Linked DNA regions of Homo sapiens: region 2 is linked to region 1. The links come from fine-mapping of genetic effects on gene expression. A gene starts in region 1. The other region holds a variant in brackets. All regions are shown on one strand. Distances are from middle to middle.

Region 1 (4,395 bases):
AACTATTGCCACTACTATAAGCATTAATATCATAAAAGTCACAACCCACAAATACAAATAACCTGTGTACAGGATTCCAGTGATTTACGCTGAATGAAGCCATTTCTAATTAACTCACTCAGATAATGCTGACCTTCCACTCAGGCCCCTTTATAAGAAATGAAAAAGTGAACCAAAATATTTATAAAATCATCTAATTTATTAGTAAATAAATGATGGAGTTTTGGTCTTCTTCTATGTAAAAAAATTCTCAGAATCCGTGCAGATTCTATTTCAGGAGATGCCTTCAATTATGTTCACATAAATATTATTCTTTAAATGTCCATTAGGACCTTTGTTTGGTACTTAATGAAGAAGGGCAAGCAATTATCTGGTTTTATTAAAATTTCAGATGCAATCTGTCTTGTAAATTTTTAAACACTAAGGATTAAAAATGGAGTATTTCCATTTATATTTGTTCCTCATCAGCTTACTCTGTAGTTTTGGCAATTTCAACTTCACAGAACATAGAACTGCAAGACACTTTAGAATTCTTTAAGAAGTTCAACCCCCTCATTTTATAGAATTGAGAGGTAGGTAAAAAGTGAATTGCTCAGAATCACACATCTACTTTACTGGATGGCTGGAACTAGAACCTAAGTCTGATCCTCTTTTCCATTGTTTCCTGACTCCCTTCTAGCAGTACATTTTTAATGGAAAGAACGCCGGACCAGCTGTCAGGACATGTAATTCTAGGCCAGGCCACTGAAAACTTAGCTGTAAAACTGTCTAGTATCAGTTTCTTCATCTGTAAAAGAAGAGAACTGGACTCGGTGACTTCTAGTGTCCTTTCAGATAGTCAAATTCTGTGATAACAGGTTCTTGCCCATCGTAGCTCAGTATATATGTCTATTTTGCACTGATAAATTTTCATTTTTTGCCTATAATCTTATTATTCTTTGAAACTTCTGGAGGTGGTACAACTATAAAATTCTGTTATAATTTTTATCTAAATTAAAGAAAACTCAGGCCAGGCGCGATGGCTCACGCCTGTAATCCCAGCACTTTGGGAGGCCGAGGCAGGCGGATCGCAAGGTCAGGAGATCGAGATCATCCTGGCTAACATGGTGAAACCCCATCTCTACTAAAAAAAAATACAAAAAAATTAGCCAGGCGTGGTGGCGGGCACCTGTAGTCCCAGCTACTCGGGAGGTTGAGGCAGGAGAATGGTGTGAACCCAGGAGGCGGAGCTTGCAGTGAGCCGAGATTGCGCCACTGCACTCCAGCATGGCGGACAGAGCGAGACTCCGTCTCAAAAAAAAAAAAAAGAAAACTCAGAACATCAGGTATATCTGAAATTAATCTGAAAATTGCTGTAGAATGTTATCACAGCTAATTCTATTACAAATTGACTCACGTTTTCCATGCGTTAAAACATGTTACAAATACACTTCATACAAGAACCAAATCCTTTTGCTAAGAAAGATCTTAAGTGTTCTCAGCCCATATGCAAAAAACATGGTAGCTATGTGGGGGGGGCGGATGTGTTAATTAGCTTGATTGTGCTAATCATTTCACAAGGCATACATATATCAACACATCATGTTGTATATCTTAAATTTATACAATTTTTGTCAATTATACATCAATAAAGCTAGAAAAATAAAAATTTTAAATAACTCTTTGTGGTGCCATCTCCCTATATCCAGGATGACTCTGCCCTTGCCCCTAAGGTCGGTGGCACTGGCTTGCTGTACCCTTCTGCTCTCCAACTCCTGCCATCTTCCTGGCACCGTGCATGTGGATAACTAAACTCCCTTACTTTCTTGACCTTCCTGAAGCCAAGCACTTTTACAGCAATTTGACTCAGGGACCCACTCCCATGGCCACATATGGCTCTTTACATATACTTGGAAATGCCTGTCCTTGGACATGTAAAAACAACAAAAGTACATTTCTCACTCCTGCCATATTCCACCCATCTTGTTCCTCTCCCATTCTGTCAGTTCTGCTGCCACGTTGCAACCTCTCGTTCACTGAGCCTCTCACTATTTCCCCACCCAGAGAAACACACAGGGGTCCCATGACCAATGGGGCATCAGCTCTCTTTCTTATTTGCCCCTTAACTGAAGTCATGCTGCCAATCCCTATCCCTGGATGACTGCAATCACCGGCTTCTCCTCCCTGCTGTCAGGCCACTCAGCTCAGTGCCCAGGGGAAACTGTATCAATCCACGAGCGGGATTTTCAGTCTCTTCCTTAATGTCTTTGACAGATGTATTGTCCTCTCAACAACATAACAAGACACCAGTACTTACCTATTTCTACGTGTGTTGAAAGGCCACACGGTGAACCTCTATGGCAGAGAGAACCCAACATGATCAGCAGGCCAGGCCACAACCTGAAAGCAGACATGATCTCATTGCCCACCGGCTTCTCTGGTGACGTGGGAATGCTCAGAGCTGCAGCAGCACTGGGACTCCAAAATCCAGGTGCAGACCCACCGCTTCTCTCTAAGCAGGTCACTGACCGAGGAAACCAAGCCTCATTTCAAAATAATATCGTTTTCCAATGAAGTCAACTGTCCAACTACTGTTTAGCTTCACCAGAACAGCAAACAAACTCTGTGCTCCTGGGGGGTGGGGTTGGGAGGATAAACTGAAATCTGAAAAGCCTTAGGCCAGAAGCACTGCATCTTCTGACCGAGGTTTTTTCTGGATTTCATTTTAACATGAAATTTGTGTAGAGATGCAAGCAAAGTTGTCTCCAGATATTTTTTGCTTTCTATAAAAAGGCTCACCTGTGCAGATAGTCAACATATTAGACCACCTCACCTTACAAGGGTGGATCTCTCATGCATCCTTTCTACACATTTATCAGGCTGTCCTGCTTCCTCCGCCTCCCAAGCCACAAGTGCTGGGAAAGTTTTATGGTAATCAGCTGGAACTGGCTTCCTTTTCAGTATTTGGCAACAGATACTGACACTTGTATGGGATTACACAAGAGCAGCCACTCCTGGTCTCTCTACCTCTGGCTGTTCTAATAGGGCTTATCCAGAGCCTGTTGCAAGGTCAGATTCCTGCAGCTGAAGCAAAGATGTCAATTCCACTTGGGAGGTGGAAGGAAGGGGGCAGATTTAGGGCCAAGAAACAGGGTTTGGAAAATGTTAAGCTCACGATATATTATCAGGTACCCACTTACACTTCATCCATGGGAAAAATTAAGCTCTTCATGAAACTGATGGTAATCTTAAAACACAAATTATGCATATTTTACATTAAAAGCAAGAGATGGGCTCCTAAAAGAGTGGGAGGAAATAGTATTCACTTCAGGTTTGCCAAATGAAAGGATGAATAGAAAGTGGGATGATTTGGCTGGGCGTGGCGGCCCACACCTGTAATCCCAGCACTCTGGGAGGCTGAGGCTGGTGGATCACCTGAGGTCAGGAGTTTGAGACCAGCGTGATCAACATAGTGAAGACCCCGTCTCTACTAAAAATACAAAAATTAGCCAGGTGTGGTGGCACGTGACTGTAGTCCCAGCTACTGGGGAGGCTGAGGTGGGAGGATCTCTTGAACCCAGGAGGTGGAGATTGCGGTGAGCCGAGATTGCACCACTGCACTCTAGCCTGGGTGACAGAGCAAGACCCTGTCTCAAAAAAAAAAAAAGAAAAGAAAAAAAGAAAGTGGAATGATTTGACAACAGTTGTCGCCCCAACAGTTTCCCCTGTAAGCTTAACACAGCCATGTGCACAGCCCCAAGGAAAGAAATCCCGCAGCTACCCCCAGACCTGAGGGGCAGTAGGCCCAGCTACTCCTGATTAGTCCAGAGGCCATATGCCTACGTGTTTTGTTTGGCTAACAGGATGTTTTATAAACTTAAATCAAGTTTATGAACTTTTTCTAAATGAGAAAATTCACGTAGAAATCTAGATTTCTGGCTCTCTTAAAAACAAAAGAACTGGCATCATGAACTGACGCTCCCATGTGACACGACAACCAGCTGCAGCCAAAGAGCCAGCTGCCCCCTGATAGAGCATGTCCTGCTCCTCCAGTCCCCACCATCCATGCAATGTGTGCAGGTTTCCACACCCCTTCTGGCCACCAGAGGCCTTTGAGTTTGCCTCCCTGTCACTCTGGGCCTTCTACAGACTGTGCGTGAGGGAGTCACAATTATTAATTGGGACTTTGGATATTGTCTCTCAGAACATCCAAGAGCAGTCAATCAATGGTTACAGGGGAAAAAAATACTGCTAGAAAAGATATCTAACCATATATAATACAACAAACCCATCCAAAAAGCACCAAAGAAATGGGTTCAGAACAGGTGTGGTGGCTCACGCCTATAATCCCAGCACTTTAGGAGGCCAAGGCGGGCAGATGGCTTGAGGCCAGGAGTTCAAAACCAGCCTGTGCAA
Region 2 (4,395 bases), 52 kb after region 1:
TTGCTTTCCTTTTTCATCATAGATTTGCTTGTAAGCAGACAGTGCATAAAGAACATTCCTCTCTGTTAATGAAACCCTTTTGGTGTTGAGGGGCCCATGTTTTCAGAATTTTTAAGGCGCTTACTGAGGTCTGCAAAAACTTCTCAGCTCTTCACTGTGAATTTTCATGGGGATTCTTTTTCTTCTGCAGTTTTTTCTTCCTTGCCTCTTCTTGAGGTATGTGTTCCTGTTCCAGTTCCAACAACTCCTCATTAGTCAGTTCCTCAGGAACCACCTGTAGGAGCTCCTCAATGTCTTCTTCTTCCACCCCCAGGTTAAAATTGTTTGCCATCTCAACCACAGCCTTGTTGGTTTTTGCAACCTCCTTGTCCTTGGCAAATCCTTTGAAATCACGGATGAACCTCTTGAGTGTCTTCTTCCAGATGTCATTTATACGTTCCTTGGTAACATCACCCCAAGCCCAAGCAAGGGTCCTGATGGAGTCGTAGATGTAATCCTTTCAGAATTGCATCAGCGTCTTCTCCGTGTCTTCCTTTGTTGCAGTAATAACCTGAGCAAAGCTGCTCCTCCTCAGGCAGTGGGCCTTAAAAGCTGCTGTAACTCCTTTACCCATTGGTTGGTAATCCTTAATCTCTTGTTTCAAGATCAGTCACTTGATGTGGCCTCTTACTGGCAACAATAGCCGTGGATTTTCTATGACAAAGGGACCGTGATGAACAAAGCAACACGAGATTAATTGAAGCACAAGAGAAAATAATGCAATCAAGAGGCACAGTAAACAAGACACGTTTATACTGCTGGTATAACCCAGTATTTCTTTTGTTTTGTTTTGTTTTGTTTTTGAGACAGGGTCTCACTCTGTAATTTAGGCTGGAGTGCACCGGCACCATCACAGCTCACTGCAGCCTTGACCTCCTGGGCTCAAGAGATCCTCCTACCCCAGCCTCCTGAGTAGCTGAGACTACAGGCATTCGCCACCACACCCAGCTAACTTTTAAACATGTTTTTTATAGAGATGGAGTCTCACCATGTTGTCCAGGCTGGTCTCAAACTCCTGGGCTCAAGCAATCCTCCAGCCTCAGCCTCCCAAAGTGCTGGGGTTACAGGAGTGGGCTACTGCACCCAGCCACATACTGTTTTACAATAAACTGTTTTTAATAAGTAGAAGGAGTACACTGTAAAATAACAATGAAAAGTACAGTATAATAAATACGTAAACCAGTAGCATAGTCACTTATTATATACTGTACATAATTGTATGTGCTATACTCTTATACAACTGAGAATGCAGGTTTGTTTACACCAGCATCACCACAAACATGATTAATGCATTGGGCTGCATTGGACTTTATGATGGCTACGACATCACTAGGTGACAGGAACTTTTCAGCTCCATTATCTCATGGGTCCATAAATCATATATGCAGTCCATCACTGACAGAAATTTCACTATGCCAGGCATGACCGTATAAGCCTATGTGCTCTCTTCCTGCTGCAATAAAGTCTCAGTCCTGCAACTCTGGGTTCATCATCTTTAGGAGAATGGAGGTGATAATACTCTCCATGTAGGCTTCAAATAAAGGAAGCTTTGCTGCTTGCTAATCTCAACTCAACAAGAGAGGCTCTAGGGACCAATTAGTTGGAGAAATGGTGACTTTGTTTCTTTTTTTTTTTTTCCTTTCTTAACTTTGTTCCTGATTTTAATGGAAATGCTTATTTTACTGTTGATATGTGGATCTGGCCTTTCCTTCTCAACATCTTTAAACTTTTAATTTTGAAATAATTATAAATTCATAGGAAGTTGCAAAGATAATGCAGAGTCCCGTGTACCCTTCACCCAGTGGTTCGCTTATTACCTATGTAATACAATTATCAAAACCAGGAAACTGATACCAGTGCAAAACTGTTAATCCAGGCCTTATTCCAATTTCACTCGTTTTTATGTGCACTCATTTGTATGTGAGTGTTTGTACACCTCTACCTAATTTGATCACATCAATAGTTAGATTTGTGTAGGCAGCACCTGAATCAAGATACAGAACTGTTTCATCTCTACCTAGGAAATCCCTGGCAGTACCTCTTCATAAATGACTTTGAAAGTAACTTGGCAAGATTGGTAGCTTTTTTAAACTTTCCTTTCACTATTATATAC[A/G]TGCAAAAAAAAAGGATACATAATTGAATAAGTGAATCGCTCAATGAATTCTCAGAAGACCGAGATCAAGGTGTCGGCAGGTTTGGTTTCTCCTGACGCCTCTCATCTTGGCTTGTAGATGGCCGCCTTCTTGCCATGTCCTCCCATGATCTTTCCTCTGTGCCTGCGTGCCCCAGATGTCTCTCTGCAGGTCCTAATCTCTTCTTCTAATAAGAAAACCAGTCGATTGGATTAGGACCCATCTTAATGGCCTCATTTTACTCATTTTAACTTAATTAATCACATCTCTTTAAAGGCTCTATCTCCAAATACATTTCAGGTACTGGGGGTTAGAGCTTCAACCTATGAATTTTGACATAACACGATTAATTTAGTCAGCTGGGCGCAGTGGCTCACGCCAGTAATCCCAGCACTTTGGTAGGCCGAGGCTGGTGGATCATTTGAGGTCAGCAGTTTGAGACCGGCCTGGCCAACATGGCGAAACTCCATTTCTACTAAAAATACAAAAATTAGCCCGTCATGGTGGTGGGCGCCTGTAATCCTAGCTACCTGGGAGGCTGAGGCAGGAGAATCGCTTGAACTGGGGAGGAAGAGGTTGCAGTGAGCCAAGATCATGCCACTGCACTCCAGCCTGGGTGACAGAGTGAGACTCCATCTCAAAAATAATAATTTAGCCCACAACACTGAAGGAATATTTTTTTAAATGCCTTTATTTTCTGGCTGGTCATGGTGGCCCATGCCTGTAGTCCCAGTACTTTGGGAGGCTGAGGCGGGCGGGTCATTTGAGGCCAGGAGTTCGAGACTAGCCTTGCCAACATGGCGAAACTCCGTCGCTACTAAAAATATAAAAAGTAGCTGAGTGTGGTAACACACATCTGTAATCCCAGCTACTCAGGAGGCTGAGGCACAAGAATCACTTGAACTGCCAGGAGGCAGAGGTTGTAGTAAGCGAGATTGCACCACTGCGCTCCAGCCTGAGCAACAGAGCAAGACTGTCTGAAAAAAAATAAAATAAAAATTCCTTTAGTTTCAGTAATGGAAAGTCATCCTTGTTGAAATTATAAAGATTTTGTTCCTTTACTTAGCCTAGTATTTGCTCTCTCAGTAAATACACAACTCTTACAGGATTGAAGATGATCCAGGAGCCACGTAATTAGTTTAACTACAATACCCCATTCCCATTCTCATACTTCAACAAGCATTTATCTCAACAAAATTATGTGAACAAATATGAACTTGAAAGAGCCAATCCTTTAAGATAAATCCCCATTGGTTAACTAGGCCTAAATTTAAAATAGACCTAAGTGGGACCTGGCACTGTAGCTCACATCAGTAATCCCAGCACTTTGGGAGGCAGAGGGAGGTGGATCACTTGAGCCAGGAATTTTTGAGACCAGCCTGGAGAGCATAGTGAGACTCCCCCATCTCTACAAAAAATTAGTCCACACCTGTAGTCCCACCTACTCAGGAAGCTGAGAGGTGGGAGGATCACTTGAGCCTGGGAGGTCCACACTGCAGTGAGCCGTGATGGTGCCACTGCACTCCAGCCTGAGTGACAGAGCAAGACCCTGTCTCAAACAAACAAAAAACACCTAAGTGAGCATTTGTTAACTAGATGTCACACACATGTACTGAGTTCCCCCCAAAACCCACACCTTTGTTCAGTTTGGGAACTCCAGAGTTCACCTGAACCAGTCAATCAGAGCTCACCTGCCTTAACCAATCAGGACTCAGATGTATCAACCAACCAGGCGTCATCTGTATCAACCAACCCAAACTGAGCTACACTGACCAATCAGAACTATGCAAGTTTCAATCCTTCATTTACATATGGACCTGATTGGAAACCTGGGTAGAATTTTGCTATAAATCCAGAACGCTTGCTTTGTTTTTTGAAACCCATCTTTGTTTTACACAGAAGACCATAACTCTGTGGTTTGGAAACTGTTCACGGCAATAAAGTCTCTTTCCTTCAAATTCCTTTTCAGAGAACTTCTGTTCACAGTTGCTAATGGAGTGAGTTAAAACAGCCTGGAAAGGAAGGAACTACTACCTGTTTGAGGGGAAAGCTCCATACAGTACTACCATATATGAAACTCCAGAAAATTCAAGCTAATCTCTAGTGATTGCCAGGGGAGAGGGGGATTACAAAGAGCCACGAGGAAACTTTTATGGGTAATTATGTTTGTTCAACAGCTTGATTGTGGTCATGGTTTCACAGATGTGCACACATATCAAAGCAT

Which allele goes with the higher level. Alleles are on the strand shown, and positions count from the first base shown. SD is a standard deviation of normalised expression in the study named.
As copies of G replace A in region 2, the expression in subcutaneous fat of the gene that starts at base 2,460 in region 1 goes up (small effect, 0.25 SD a copy in FUSION).

The links. PIP is the estimated chance that this variant, and not a neighbour inherited with it, causes the effect.
Region 2: its variant is the best candidate, but not a certain one, in a credible set for the expression of GPLD1 in subcutaneous fat (FUSION, PIP 0.87).

Annotation. Positions count from the first base shown.
Region 1 is chr6:24,487,119-24,491,513 of GRCh38, forward strand. GPLD1 (glycosylphosphatidylinositol specific phospholipase D1) reads right to left here and starts at 2,460. Exons shown (of 25, transcript NM_001503.4): 1 at 2,297-2,460. The coding sequence starts at 2,393.
Region 2 is chr6:24,538,988-24,543,382 of GRCh38, forward strand. LOC124901277 (a long non-coding RNA gene) reads right to left here and starts at 1,065. Exons shown (of 2, transcript XR_007059507.1): 1 at 1,028-1,065; 2 at 1-693. It also overlaps a transcript of KIAA0319 not described here. RefSeq lists an enhancer at 1-779. The variant A/G (reference allele first, on the strand shown) is at 2,153.